2 separate regions of the Homo sapiens genome follow, and region 2 is linked to region 1. A link means that fine-mapping ties the variant in region 1 to the expression of a gene that starts in the linked region. Tissue or cell type: whole blood. Region 1 holds a variant in brackets; the other region holds the start of a gene. All regions are shown on one strand. Distances are between the middles of the regions.

Region 1 (8,188 bases):
AGAAAAATATTTTAAATTTAATAAACACGAGTCTTATTTTAAATTTTAGTGAAATCTATTTTCCCTTAATAAGCATTTTCAAAGAGAAAAAAAGTAAAGATTAAAAATAGAATCAGTGAGAATTCAAATGGAAAGGAAATACATCAAGAAGATAATATTGCCACATACTCTTCTTTGCTGCATCCTGGTAACATATCCAAACTAATGACATTTCAAAACAGAGGTAGAGCTCTTGAAAAAAAAAAAAACACATAGTGAAGCCATCTCACTTTAAAAACTTAGAATTAAATTAATGCTATACTTCCTATTATGCTTATTGTGCACATGCCTTAAAAATAAAAAATTACCTAGGTTTCCTGCAATTATGGTAAACAAAATTCAAAGAAGTAATCACAACAAAGCAAGTTTTTTCCCTCAATGACTTTTATGTAAAATTTCTTAACTCATTAACATGAGAAACACACTTGGAATAAATGTTTCCTTACTTACTGGTTCTTCCTTAACAACTAGGCATAAATCACCATCACTGCTCCGGGTACCAAATCCATTTAAAGAGGACCCAACCAAAAAAAGTCTGCTTTCTAAAGAAACAGAAGAAAGTAATAAGAGTATTTAAAATCTAAAGTAGGTGCATGGTTCTGTGCCTATTAAAAAAAAAAAAGATAAAATTTAAAATAGGAATGCATATACCTAAAGGACATGCAAAATAGGGAAACATACGTGGAAATAACAGCTGAATTTCTCTCTGCAGCTGTGTTCGACAGAGTTCTTTCTTCTTTAAATCACTTATTTGCTGCTGACATGTTTCAAATAACTCCAGTATCTGCTGACTCAACTTGAATCCACCGCAAAAAAAAGTAAAAGTTTTGTTCAGCAATGTAAAAGTAATTGCTATATGGAGAAGCATAAATCAATTATACTGACACTATTTTAAAAGGGAGTATGTATTATCTTCTTAATATTTCCCAAAACAAAGCTACTATTACTCAAGTACAGGAAGAGAATGGTCTGAAAAACCACACATAAATTTTACAAAGTAAAATATACAAGTCACAGAAAAGTACAGTCACAGATACTTCGTAATAAAAATAATCCATGGGTCAGCAAACTGTTTAACACTTGCTCACTTTATTAGTATGGCCCCTGAGAAAAGAATTTTTTTATATTTTTAAAGGATTATGAAAACAAACAAATAAAAATATGCAACAAACAATATGTGAGTGGCAAAGCCTGAAGTATTTACTATCTGGCTTTTTAAAGAAGTTTGCCCAATCCCTAGTATTCACACCCACAAATACCAAATATAAGAGATGTCACCAGTCCCCGGTCTTCCAGGCTCATGCAAACCACCCTCCATCCCATTCTTCTAACAATGCCCTAAACCCTAACTTCATGTTGCCATCGACTTACCACCTTTTTTTTTTTTTTTTGAGACGGAGTCTTACTCTGTCACCTAGGCTGGAATGCAGTGGTGCGATCTCGGCTCACTGCAACCTCAGCCTCCTGGGTTCAAGCGGTTCTCCTGCCTCAGCGTCCCAAGTAGCTGAGAATACAGGCATGTGCCACCACACCCAGCTAATTTTTCAATCTTTGTAGAGACAGGGTTTTGCCATGCTGCCCAGGCTGCTCTCGAACCCCTGACCTCAAGTGATCTGCCTGCCTCAGCCTCCCAAAGTGCTGGGATTACAGGTGTGAGCCATCACACCCGGCCCTACCACCCTTTTATCTACTGATCTGGTTCACACTTTTCCCTCCAGCCCAACTCTTGCCATCAACATAGGTGATTTCCCTATCTGAAATGGGCTACATATCACAACATACTCCCTTTCCGGACTTTTATTTCCTCCAGTATTCTTCATCAGTATACACTCCTATAATGTGGTCTTTACAATAAACTGGAACTGCTCTAGCTCTGAAATTTTAAATTCCAATATAATATCTTGGCTTCAATCTTCTATCCAGTTCACACTTTCTCACTCTCCTCATACCTGCTCTAGAACCACAAGAGATCTAGATTCCCTTGAATCCTCCATTTTCTCCCAAGCCATCAGCATAAAAATGGTGTTATTTCTTTCCCTATGCAGTCTATACTACACAGTGCATCCCTTGAACCACTCTCTTATCGTGCCTCAACAACATTATCTCCTTGTCATGTTCTAATACTTGTCCTACAAAACCCTAATCTTAGGTCAATATAAAAAAAAAAAACCACCTTCACTGCTCTTACATCTAAGTTGCTAAGAAACAAAACTGAAAAAAAAATTAAAAATCATAAAATTGGAGTATTTCAAGTTTATAGTCTTAGGTTGGCCCTTAGCATCACTTAGCAATTACTTCCAAGTCTTTGGTTAGATATCACTTCTGTTTTTCATACCATTCCAAAATGTTTACTACCTTTTTCAAGCCCTCTAAACTTATCTCCCTTTCTCTAGCAAATACAGTTAAATTAAAGTTTACTAAGAAAATTGAGAATACCAAATGTGATATTCCTCAGCCTCTTAACCACAGACCTAAAAATGAACATATCTGGGGAAAAAAAAAAAGGCGTCCTTTTCCCCTGTTCAAAGCTAATCTCTCTACCAATAATTTTGTATTCAAGCCTTCTGGTCACCTTAAGGGCACAAACACGTCTACCAGTATTTCAGTCCTGCTCCTGTATTTTTAATCTCTCCCTCTCTAGGACTGCCTTATAGTCCATAATGAGGCAAAAGTATCACCCATCACGTAAAATGTTGTCTTTCACATATTTAGAATCCTCATTTTAAGAAGGCAGAGGCATTCTGGGCAATTTGGCAATGAAAGAAGCATAACATTTTTTTAAATCTCTGAATACTCACCCCACAAAAGACAGAGCAACTAGGAGAATAAATCAAAGAGATCAAACCAAACCAAAATGTGGCCACAAAATAAAACACAATTGACTGACCGGGTATTCATCATGAATACTCAGGAGTGGGACAAATACCAACAGCAGCAAGATTCACATGGTATCAGACACAATAAAAAAGGGAATGGGATTTGAAACAGTCTTAAAAGCAGAACATGCAGAAATCAAATTGCTTATAGGTAATACCTTCTCCCCCTCACTCACCAAATTCAGCAGCCCACATCAATGTACCACAACCAAAATAGGCAAGCAGCTTCATAGGCTACAATTCATAGGTAAATGCAAGGGGACCACAGAAAGATCAGAGACCTCCAAACAAAATGAGGTTCCCTTCCAAGAAAAAGCAACAGCAGAAACTGCCAGGAAGAGAAACCTAAACTGCACAGTACAGAGCCATCAGGAGAAAAGGAAAGGTGTAAAATGATTCTGACTCTCAGTGGACATATGAATATGAAAACATTTTTTATTATAACAGGACCAGGCAGGGCAGGTGAAAGGTCCCTGGCATCTAGTAGGTAGACGCCAGGATGTCACCGAACATCCTACAATGCAGAGGACAACTCTACCACAGCAAAGATTATCTGGCCCAAAATGCCAATAGTACAGAGGGTAAAAAATTCTACTCTAGATAAAAGTGGGAAAGGAAAAAAGCAAAGGCACTAAGGAAGTATATTTCTGAATACTATGTAAGAACAGAAGAAGGCTGGGCGTGGTGGCTCATGCCTGTAATCCCAGCACTTTGGGAGGCCAATGCAGGCAGATCACGAGGTCAAGAGATCAAGACCATCCTGGACAACATGGTGAAATCCCATCTCTAATAAAAATACAAAAAAATTAGCCGGGAACAGTGGCACGTGCCTGTAGTCCCAGCTATTTGGGAGGCTGAGGCAAGAGAATCACCTGAACCCGGAAGGCAGAGGTTGCAGTGAGCTGAGATCATGCCACTGCACTCTAGCCTGGGTGACAAAATG[C/T]GACTCCGTCACAAAAAAAAAAAAAAAAAGCAAAAGAGGAGAAGTCCTAGAGCCACAAAGCTAGCCTGCTCAACCCTCTCCACATAAAAGTAGCACACGGCTGGGCATGGTAGCTGAGCACACCAATAATCCCAGCACTTTGGGAGGCCAAGGCAGGTGCATTGCTTAAGCCCAGGAATCCGAGACAAGCCTTGGTAACATGGCAAAACCTCCCTTCTACAAAAAATTTAAAAATTAGCTGGACATGGTGATGCGTGCCTGTCGTCTCAGCTACTAGGGAGGCTGAAGCAGGAGGATCGCTTGAGCCTGGGAGGTCGAGGTTGCAGTGAGCCATGATCACACCACTGTACTCCAGCCTGGGCAACAGAGGGAGACCTTGTCTCAAAAACACTGAAATAAAATAAAATGAAAGTAGTACAGAAAAAGCCATCTCAAAGACAAATAACAGGAGGAAAGAAATGGAATCTCGAAAGAGGTAAGCATGGGAAAGGACAGAAAAAAAATTGAAGAAATAACGCCTGAAAGTATTCTAATCAATTCCCATACAAAGTATTTGTAAGAAAAATGAGAATAAACTGAGCAACAATTTTTTTTTTTTGATACATGGTCTCACTGTGTTCCCAGACTAGAGTGCAATGTCGCAATCACAGCTCACTGCTGTCTTGACCTCCTGTCAAGCAATCCTCCCATCTCAGCCCTGCAAGTAGCTGGGACTAAAGGTGTGCAGCACCACATCTGGTTAATTTTTTTTTCTTGAGAGATAGTTTCTCACTATTTTGCCCAGGCTGCAGGGTAACATTTCTACAGACAATAAAGCACACCAGAAGAATGTGTAAACAAAACTAATATTTTTAACATAATATAAAAAACCAAGGCCTTTTCTCTCATGTTTTAATTTTCTAAAAAGATAATTCACTACTTAAAGCATACATACTATCAACAAACAATTAAAAATTTACTTTTTAAGAACTTCACAATAGCAGCAAAAAGCATGAAATATTTAGAAATCTATGTACCAAGAGATGTGCAGGATTTGTATACTGAAAACTAGAAAATATTGAGAGAACCTAAAGACCTAAATAAAGGGAGAGATACACCACATTCATGGATCAAAAGACTATTGTCAAGGATGTCAATTCTCCCAGAATTGACCTTTAGATTCAATGCAATCAAAATCAAAAGCCCATCTGATATTTGTTTCACAAGAAATGAAAAAGAAATCAAAAGCCCAGAAGGCTTCTTTCTAGAAACTGACAGAAGAATTTTAAATTTGACTTAGGCAAAAGTCCAAGAATAGCTGAGAAAAAAATTGGGGAATTTAACCTACCTGACTTCTATACTTAATATAACACTACAGTAATCAAGATAGTATGGCCCTGGCAGAAGGATAAACAAAAAAGATCAACTGAATATCAGAATACTGAAATATTTACAAATAAAATAACTGCAATCTGATTCAAACTAATGAGGGAGGGAGGTAAAGGTGAAATAAGATTAGTCATATGTTGTTAATTGTTATGGTCATATGTTGGCAATTGTTAAAGTGGGCAACATAAGGATTTATGATACGTTTTTCTCTCTAGTATATGGTTTGATATTTTCCATAATAAAAAGCTAAAAAGAAAAGTGTCCAAGTTTGTAACAAATGTGAAAAAGATCTCCAGTAAAAGTGGCTAACATAAAATTTTACATGATACTTGAAGGATTAAGTTTTACTGACCTAGAGCAGGGTTGGCGAACTATTTAGGCCAAGTATAGGCAGCAAGCTAAATAATTTCTACTTTTAGTCATTGTTAAAAAGAAAAGAAAAAAGAATATGCAACAGAGGACCTACATAGCCCACGTGCCTAAATATTTACTATCTGGCCCTTCTGCCAACCCCTGATGTAGAGAATCAGGCAGATCAGATCAACATAATCCTAGAATTCACCGTAGGTACTCAGTATTTGTTGAATAGCAAAATAAATTTCTTGGCTGGGCAAGGTAGCTCACGCCTGTAATCCTAGCACTTTGGGAGGCCAAGGTGGGCGGACTGCCGGAGCTCAGGAGTTCAAGACCAGCCTGAGCAACAACGGTTAAACCCTGTCTCTACTAAAATACAAAAAATTAGCCAGGTGTGGTGGCATGCACCTGTAGTCTCAGCTACTCCGGAGGCTGAGGCAGGAGAATCGCTTGAACCCTGGAGGCAGAGGTTGCAATGAGCCGAGATCGCGCAACTGCACTCCAGCCTGGGCAACAGAGCAAGACTCTGTCTCCAAAAAAAAAATTCCTTCACAATGCCCAAGTGAAATGTTATTATATTTATAAAGTTCTTTCATCTGAATGACCTTGTTAATGTAGAAACAGTCACATGTTAAAAAATTTACAATGACTGGAAAATATGAAATTCCATATTCTTGTTCCTCTCCATTTTTTACATGCATGGAAACACTTTTTCTTTCCCAAGGACTACTATAATGGAGATTTAATGAGTTTTTATGTGAAAGAATTTTCGTCATTATCTACCCATTAACTTGGGGATTCACATTATCAAATCATATTACTTTACCCTAGAACAAACATTGAGAGTTCAGATGAGACAAAAAGAGAAATGCACATATATGTTGAAACAACATTTCTGGTGCTTTAATTTAGAGAAATATTCCAGGAGATGGCTCACTGTTGTTATAGTTCTTAAAAAAATAGAGAGGAGGAATGTATAATATGAAATATCCTTGGCTAAAAATCATATACGATTTAGATCATATATGTAATAACAAGCTGACCATGCATAATGGCACTCCAAAAATATTCTTTAATTCTGGGGTAAATTTTTCCTAATTTTTAGTTTAAAAAAACTATTCCAAGCCAGGTACAGTGGCAAATGCCGGTAGTATCAGCTACTGAGGAGGCTGAGGCAGCAACATAGCTTGAGCCCAGGAGTTCAAGAATAGCCTGGGTAACTTAGTAAGACCCCATCTCAAAAAAAAAAAAATCCCTCCAACAACATATATATAAAGTGGATTATTCTTAAACTTGTCTAAATCACTACAATATTATCTGCTTAGGCTACCTACCAAGATCTATCATTATAAAATTAACTGCTTAGGCTATCTACCAAGATCTATCACTATAAAATTAATTAGTCTATTTCTCACTACACAAAAAATTTACTTATACGTAGCCTAAAATATTAAAATAAATATTTCTGGCCAGGCGCAGTGGCTCACATCTGAAATCCCAGCACTCTGGGAGGCCAAGGCGGGCAGATCACTTGAGGTCAGGAGTTCGAGACCAGCCTGACCAAGATGATGAAACCCCATCTCTACTAAAAATACAAAAAAATCAGCCAGTCATGGTGACAGGTGCCTGTAGTCCAAGCTACTTGAGAGGCTGAGGCCGGAGAATCACTTGAACCTGGGAGGCAGAGGTTGCAGTGAGTCAAGACCACACCACTGCACTCTAGCCTGGGCAACAGAGCAAGACTCCATCTCAAAAAATAAAATAAATAAATAAAAATAAATATTTCTTCCAAATGTGAATGTTCATTTTTCCTAAAAAATATTGTAACTTGTCCTCAAAGTCAAGGTCAAATTAAATACCAATAAAATTGCCATTGTCTGAAGTCAACACAAGCCATAAGGACACGTGAAGTGCTGGCTGGGATTCAGAAAGTTTTTTTTTTTTTTTTTTTGAGACGGAGTCTCACTCTGTTGCCCAGGCTGGAGTGCAGTGGCACGATTCGGCTCACTGCAAGCTCCGCCTTCCAGGTTCATGCCATTCTCCCGAGTAGCTGGGACTATAGGCGTCCGCCACCAGGTCCAGCTAATTTTTTTTTTTTTTTTTTTTTTGTATTTTTAGTAGAGACGGGGTTTCACCATGTTAGCCAGGATGGTCTCGATCTCCTGACCTCGTGATCTGCCCGCCTCGGCCTCCCAAAGTGCTGGGATTACAGGCGTGAGCCACTGCACCCAGCCCCAGAAAAGTTTTTATATGTACCAATATATAAAGCTCTCACATGGTATTTAACACTGTATAACCTTCACATGGTATACTCAGCAGTTCACCACCTGTCCCTGATAGCTGGGCCCTTGAGTAAAAGAAAGTGGAAAAAAAAAAAAAAAAAACTTTTTAGCCTGGCACAGTGGCTCATGCCTGTAATTCCAGCACTTTGGGAGACTAAGGTGGGTGGATCACCTGAGGTTGGCAGTTCGAGACCAGCCTGACCAACATGGAGAAACCCCGTCTCTACTAAAAACACAAAATTAGCCGGGCATGGTGGCGCATGCCTGTAATCCCAGAACCGTTTGAACCCAGGAGACGGAGATTGCAGTGAGCTGAGATCAAGCCA
Region 2 (8,188 bases), 25 kb after region 1:
AATTCTATGAACCATCATCAGACCTCATCCTAAATGCCTGACTCTAATTTGGACCAGAGACAAGGTTAACCTCCAGAAAACAAGAGTCTGTCAACTTTCTTTAGCAGACCCTTATGTCTTTTTACAAGAGATTTTTAAAAAAGAAAATAATCCTGTCATATTTCCTCACCTGTACACCCTAGCTTCTTCAGAGGAAATGGAAATATCTTGAACTAAGCAGCATTCCAGGGAATCCCCTAGCAAAAATACATACAATAATCCTGGGCTGGGCAGTTGCTCATGCCTGTAATCCCTTGGGAGGCTGAGGCAGGCAGATTGTTTGAGCCCAGGAGTTAAAGACCAGCCTGGGCAACACGGTAAAACCCCATCTCTACAACAAATACAAAATTAGGCTGCACGCCTATAATCCCAGCACTTTGGGAGGCCGAAGCAGATGGATCACCTAAGGTCAGGAGTTCAAGACCAGCCTGACTAACATGGTGAAATCCCTACTAAATACAAAAAAAATCAGCCAGGCGTGGTAGCACATGCCTGTAATCCCAGCTACTTGGGAGGCTGGGACAGGAGAATCGCTTGTACCTGGGAGGCGGAGGTTGCAGTGAGCCAAGATCGCGCAATTGCACTCCAGCCTGGGCAACAAGAACAAAACTCCATCTCAAAAAAAAAAAAAAAAAAAAAAAAAATTAGGCCGGGTGCAATGGCTCATGCCTATAATCCCAACACTCTGGGAGGCCGAGGTGGGCAGATCACCTGAGGTCAGGAGTTCGAGACCAGCCTGGCCAACACGGCAAAATCCCGTCTCTACTAAAAATACAAAATTAGCTAGCGTGGTGGTGGACACCTGTAATCCCAGCTACTTGGGAGGCTGAGGCAGGGGAATCGCTTGAACCTGGCAAGCAGAGGTTACAGTGAGCAGAGATCGCACCACTGCACTCCAGCCTGGGCGAAAAAACGAGACTTCGTCTCAAAAAAAAAACAAACACACAACAAAAATTAGCCAGGTGTGGTGGTCTGCATCTGAAGTCCCAGCTACTCTGGAGGCTGGGGTGGGAGGATCGCTTGAGCCAGGGAGACGGAGGTTGGAGTGAGCCGAGGAGACTGTGCCACTGCACTCCAGCCTGGTCAACAGAGCAAGACCCTGTCTCAAAAACAAAAAAAAAAAAGAAAAAAGAAAAATCTTGGATTGCCAGATTCAAGACTGGCAACGAACACTTTTCACCCTTTGCTCAGGCTCACACTCCTTCTTGGCCTTTTTTACTCTGGTTCCCTAACCTAATTTCCCATAAAACATAGGATCCTACTTCATAGGATTTATGAGAAAATGATATTAAATACAATTCACTGTAACAAATTTTGCTTGATAGTTCATTTTGTTGGAATAGACACTACAAATCTAGTGAATGGAAGAAATATGTATTCAGAAAAACTAGAATTAAAATCTTGTACTTTCAGGTTTATTTAAATCGGTTCATAGCAAAAAGCCTAGATACTTTTGTTTATACCTATAAAAAATATGCTGTTTTTCCTCTATAACTGAATAAGGTCCATGTATATTAAGATTTGAAGATGCAAAATGACATCAAGAGCCCAGGCCTCACCTTGTTTTCATCTCTTACACAGCCAAATCCAAACTAAGTCTAAAGATGACTTGTGGCTCAGAACTACTCTACCAAGTTAATGACCAAATTATCCCCAGCTTAAAAACTTAGATTGAGTCCACAGCCAGATGTTTAGTCTAGGGCAGAAATCTAGTTTAGCATATTCCAAATTCCCAGAAATATATCAAGCTCTGGAGCCCCTGCAAAACAAAGGATCTGTCAGCCTCTCCTCAGTATGAATTTTGGCCCTCAAGTCAGGCTCTTTTTAAAGAAGGTAGGCTTCAAGTAGAGGAAAATCATTCCGACGCATTCGTTCTATGCTCACCAATATAGGTATTCTGAAAGACATCTAGAGTTGAGGAAGTAAATGAAACGCCTATGAATTTCTATGCCTTTTTCTAATACATTTCACATTGATTTTGATGAAAATAAAAATGACATCAAAACAATTATCATAAACAACATAATCATTTTTTTAAAGAGACTGTAGAGTTTCACAAAATACAGTAAAACTATTACTGTAACAGAAATAAGGGGACCTCCACAAAATTTTAAATCATTTTCTTCATACTCTGAATGAAAGGTTTCTTAAGTAGAGATTAGCTATATAAAACGTTACTCCACATTAACTATGGTCTTCTACCATCTCCTATGTGACAAATTTTATGATAGATACATAAAATCCAGATATTGGCAATATCCAATTTTCCTTACCTTAAAAGTTATCAGTTCCACAATCTGTACTTGACCATGAAAGAGTATACTGGTACTTTCTTTACGGAGAAAACCTTAAAGACGGTTTCCTAAGGTGGACCCAATGGGAAATTACACAGGTTTACATGAGACAAGGTAGTAAAAGAGTAGATTAATTCGGCCGGGCACAGTGGCTCACGCCTGTAATCCCAGCACTTTGGGAGGCCGAGGCGGATGGATCACCTGAGGTCAGGAGTTGGAGACCAGCCTGGCCAACATGGTGAAACCCTGCCTCTACTAAAAATACAAAAATTAGCCAAGCATAGTGGCACGTGCCTGTAATCCCAGCTACTCGGCAGGCTGAGGCAGGAGATCGCTTGAACCCAGGAGGCAGAGGCTGCAGTGAGCCAAGATAGTGCCATTGCACTGTAGCCTGGGTGACAAGATCAAGATTCCGTCTTGCAAAAAAAAAAAAAAAAAAAAAAAAAAAGATTAATTCCTAGTAATTTCTAGTTATAAAGTATTTGGTCCTGGAATTTGCAACCTGGAATTTCTGTCCTCAACTTGACCTCTCCTCCAACAAATTAGAGAACACTCAAGGTTATATATAATTCCTTCATCAGGATTCTTTAGAAAGCAGAATATACCTAGAATGAAAACCAGAAATTTACTGGCTAAACCAAGATACTGTCCATTTTGTCCAAATACCTTTGATATCTCAAACCCACTTTTCTCCACAATACGAAAAATCCAGTTCCTAAATCCTGCCAACCCACTGTGAAAACTACTTCCAGGTTTTGAACAGGATATTCCTTTTGGTTAAGAATTAAATTACACCCAAGTGTTCAAAAAAATAATCTAGTCACATGGCTCCAAATGGGCATTTCTTAAACAACTCATAAACGGCCTATTTCACATGGAACCTGTTACAGGACATTTCCAGAACAGACATAATTAGGGCTATTCACACCAACAAAGTAACGTCACTATTACTGGCTATTAATCAGTATAAATTAATAGCCTTATGGCTGTTAATCAGTACGTGTTAGAAGCCTGGTGGTACTGAACCATACAATATGAAGATATTTACAAAAGTTACTATGTTACCTGTAATATAAAAACACAGATTTAGTAATCAGTTACAATCTCTTTCTTCACAAAATCATACACTGCACATGTGTTATTTAGCTTGTGTTTTACAGTTTCCCTTTGTTTCTTCTCTGTTCACCCTAATGAAAAATATCTGCTACTTTAAACAAAGAGTTGAAAGAGATAAGACAAGTAATTTAGAGAATCCATAAGTTTTGAGACATATAAGCCTTTCGTGTTCTCACCTTGAGAGACGAAGAGCTTTTCTACAAAGGCTGAACAAGAAAAGAAACGCACACAACAGTCTTAACCTGTGCATTTTCCTATAAAGTGAAAAGCTGAAGCAATTTCATGCCATTTAATTAAGGCTTAAAAGATAAATGCCTTTTAAATTTTTTAATTAATCCAGCTACGTACCTTAGTTCTTCACCACCCTTTGAAACACCATGCAAGGGTCCCAAGACTATCTTCCTCTTTTGGTCCTGGAGTGGTGGACGAGGCAGTACGCGAGGAATAGAAAACGAGTAAGCAAAGTAAGCGGTCCTAAGATTCTTCAAAATGTACAGCAGCCCAGATGCCGCCCATAAATTTGGAATAACCAAGAGATACTGCTGGAACCTCCCACGCAAAACAAAACGCTACCGTTTCGGAAAAGTTTCCCGTGCCCCGCCGCCGACCTGGGCCTACACTGCTGCGTTCCTCTCCGAAACCCCCTAAACTCACAGGTGTCCTCCGGGAAGGGCTAAGCAGGGCCTACCCGCACTGCCCGTTCAGAAGTTCTAAGGCCCGAGCTGGGCGTACTTGGTCGTAGCTTTCTCCCGAACCAAAGGAGGTAGTGGTGGCCCGTGGGACAGCTAGGCCCAGCTCCGGCTCCGGCTGAGATCTAACCCCCCTCACGGCTGCCAGGGGAGGAGCAACACAAGAAAAGGTAGGGGCTGCAAGGATATAGAAGGTTGGGGGCGGTGGCAAAAAGCGGAAGAGCAAAAAGTCGCCGAAAAAGCGGCGTAGAAAACCCTGTCAAAGACACCCGGAAGACCGACGTGACCCCGGATGAGAATAGGCAGCGGGGAGCGAAAGGTCACACTTCCGGTGGCCGCCTCCCTCCCACCCCCCAACCCCCCCCACCCCCCAACCCCCCCCACCCCCCCCACCCCGCCTATGAGCGCTTTGCTTGAATGCGCAGGCGCAAGACAGCCGGATTTGAAAGGAGTTTCTTAACTGCTGCCAGCACAAGTTGGGAAAGGGTTAGGACTGCACTAAGAGGGGTGGAGCAGGCAGTCGCCGGAGGGCCACTTCTGGGCCCCTTGCCTGAACTCACGTGCAGCCGTTCTAGCTGTAACAGACGTTTTCTGTGGGTCCTTCGTGTGTTGGCCGAGTGACTTGTCCCCAGAGAAGCCTTTCTTTAACCAGTGTTCCCCTAATCTTCTCCCCCGGAGCAACATTAAACTTTATCTGTTCTTTTGCCCCTCCAGTAACCTGAGAGCTTCTTTGGAAGGAAAATGCTTTCTTTGGCCGGACGCGGTGGCTCACCCCTGTAATCCTAGCACTTTGGGAGGCTGAGGCGGGCGGATCACGAGGTCAGGAGTTCGAGACCAGCCTGGCCAACATGGTGAAACCCCATCTTTACTAAAAATACAAAAATTAGCCGAGCTTGGTGGCGTGCGCCTGTAACCCCGCTACTCAAGAGGCTGAGGCTGGCGAATCGCTTGAACCCGGGAGGCGGAGGTTGCAGTGAGCCGAGATCGTGCCACAGCACTCCAGCCTGGGCGACAGAGCAAGACTTTGTCTCAAAAAAAAAAAAAAAAAAAAATGCTTTCTTTCTCTCTAAAGCCTGGACTTAGCGCCTTGCCCATAGTAATAGCTGGTATTCACTAATTCAACAAATATTTATTGATATCGCCTCTTGAGTGAGCTTTAATAATTTGTAGAAATGTCTAAATTGTTTAATAATGCAAATCTGTTAGCTGTATTCCTTTATTGTCCACTTAATGTCTATAAAATCTGACCCCTCAGGTTCTGAAATTGGTAATTTGTGTGTCATCTTTTTTTCTGATCGATCTGGTGAGGGGCTTCTCGGTTTACGGATCTCAAATCTCAAAGCCCGTTTTTGCTTTCTTGGATTTTCTCTACTGGTTTTCTGTTTTCTATTTTATTGATTTCTGCTCTTATGTTTATTGTTTCCTTTACTCTGCTATTTTTTAATTTTTAAATTTCTTGTTTTGTTTCTCTAGTTTCTTAACTCAGAAACTGATGACCATTAATTTTAGATGTCTCTTGTTTGTACAGGCATTTGGTGTGATAAGTGTCCCTCTATACTGTTTTAGCTACATTCCACATATTTTGATATATTGTATTTTCATTTTCCTTCATTTCAAAATACTTTGTAATTTCCCTATTGCTTTCTTTTTTTGACCATGGGTTTTTTGTAAGTGTTGGTCTGCAAATGTGGAGGAGTTTTCCAGGTAGCTGCCTGTTACTGATTTCTGATTTAATCCCATTGTGATCAGAGAAGGTACTTCGTACACTATTAATAATTTTAAACTTATTGACACTTGTTCTGTGGCCCAGAGTATATAGTCTGTCTTGGTAAATACTCACTGTGCATTTGAAATGAATGTGTTTTTTGCAGTTGTTGCATGGAGTGTTCTATAAATGTCAATCATGTCAAGTTGGTTGATATTAGTGTTCAAATCTATATCCTTTCTGATTTACTGTCTACTTATTCTACTAATTATTGAGAGTATTGAAATTTCTGACTATTACTGGTTTTTTTCAATTGTAGTTCTATCAATTTCTGCTTCATGTACTTTGCAGCTCAGCTATTAGTTGCATAAACATAGTTATTCTCTTATTTGTATGAATTTATCCTTTATGAAAGTTTCATTATTATGAAATTATCCACTTTACAAATGACCCTCCTCTTTGCTGATAATGTTCTTTGCTCTGAAGTATATTTTGTCTGATAGTATTACAGCTACTTAGGCTTTCTTTTGTAGGGTGTTAACATGGTATATATAAGGAAAACATAATTCCAATTCTAGATAAAGTCCTCCAAAAATTGAAGAGGAGGGAATACTTCCCAGCTCATTCTGTGGGGCCAGCATTACACTAATACCCAAACTCTAGATATTAAACAAGCAAACTATGGACCAATATCTCTCATAAACATAATATGCACAATTCTAGTCACTTTTATTTCACAGTATATAAAAAAGATAATACATTATATCCAAACAGGTGCTTATCCTAGGAATGCAAGGTTGAATTAGCATTGTATTGACCATAAAAGAGTATACTGGTACTTGCTTTACGGAGAAAACTTTAAAGACTGTTTCCTAAGGTGGACCCAATGGGAAATTACACAGGTTTACATGAGACAAGGCAGTAAAAAGTAGATTATATAAAAAAGATATATAAATATATAAATACATAAAAATATATAAAAAAGATAATACATTATAACCAAACAGGGGCTTATCCTAGGAATGCAAGGTTGAATTAGCATTGGTAAATCAAGCAATGTAATTTACCATATTAACAAACTAAAAAAGAAAAACCATTTGATAATCTCAATACATGCAGCAAATGCATTGGACAAAATCCAGTATCCATTCCTAAGATTACAAGGAAACTTCCTCAACTTGATAGAGAGTGTCTATAAAAAGCATCACACTTAATGGTGAAGAACAGTGCTTTCAACTTAAGATCAGGAACAAGGCAAGGATTTCTGCTCTGACAACTTATGTTCAATATTGTACTGGGGATTCTAGCCTGTGCAATAAGGCAAGGAAAAAAAAAAGGCATTCAAATTAGCAAAGAAGGAAGTAAAACTGGTTTTATTTGTTTTATTTATTGAAAACTCTGGCACAAAATCTACAAAAAACTATCAGATCAAATAAATGACCAAGACTACAGGTCGTAAAATCAATACACAAATGTCAATGGCATTTGTAGTACACCAGCAATAAACAATCTGAAATTGAAATTTAAAATACCATCTACAACAGCATCAAAAATTTGAGGCGGGCATGGTGGCATGCACCTGTAGTCCCAGCTACTTGAGAGGATGAGGCAGAGAATCACTTGAGCCCAGGAGTATGATGGCATTATGATAGGTCACTGCAGCCCCAGAAAGAGAATGGAAAGACAAGCCAAAAACTGAAGCAGCTATTTGCAAATCACGTATCTGATAAGAATGTGTGTGTGTGGTTGTTTTTTTTTTTTTTTTTTTTTTTGAGATAGGGTCTTGCTGTGTCTCAAAAGAGCTGGAGTGTAGTGGCATGCTCACGACTCACTGCTACCTCGACTTCCCAGGCTCAAGTGATCCTCCCACCTCAACTTCCTTAGTGCTGGGACTACAGGTGTGCACCACCATGCCTGATTAATTATTGTATTTGTTATAGAGGATGGAGTTTCCCCATGTTGCCCAGGCTGGTCTCGAACTCCTTGACTCAAGCAATCCACCTGCCTCAGACTCTCTAAGTGCCGGAATTACAAGTGTGAGCCATCATGCCAGGCCCTGGTAAATAATTTATATCCAGGCTGGGCAAGATGGCTCACGCCTGTAATCTCAGCACTTTGGGAGGCCGAGGTGGGTGGATCACAAGGTCAGTAGTTCGAGACCAGCCTGGCCAATATGGTGAAACCCCGACTCTACTAAAAATACAAAAATTAGCCTGGCATGGTGGCAGGCGCCTGTAGTCCCAGCTACTTGGGAGGCTGAAGCAGGAGAATCACTTGAACCCGGGAGGCAGAGGTTGCAGTGAGCCGAGATCACGCCATTGCACTCCAGCCTGGGTGACAGGGCA

The links. PIP is the estimated chance that this variant, and not a neighbour inherited with it, causes the effect.
Region 2: TENT2 starts here. The variant in region 1 is fine-mapped to the expression of TENT2 in whole blood (TOPMed, PIP above 0.99).

Annotation. Positions count from the first base shown.
Region 1 is chr5:79,633,498-79,641,685 of GRCh38, reverse strand. TENT2 (terminal nucleotidyltransferase 2) reads right to left here. Exons shown (of 15, transcript NM_001114394.3): 5 at 721-835; 6 at 490-581. Among named protein-coding and RNA genes, the nearest start is that of TENT2, 25 kb to the right of the region's middle. The variant C/T (reference allele first, on the strand shown) is at 3,859.
Region 2 is chr5:79,608,685-79,616,872 of GRCh38, reverse strand. It overlaps TENT2 (terminal nucleotidyltransferase 2), which reads right to left and starts at 4,432. Exons shown (of 15, transcript NM_001114394.3): 1 at 3,798-4,432. LOC124901014 (a long non-coding RNA gene) reads left to right here and starts at 4,536. Exons shown (of 2, transcript XR_007058840.1): 1 at 4,536-4,731; 2 at 4,853-5,402. RefSeq lists an enhancer at 3,628-4,827.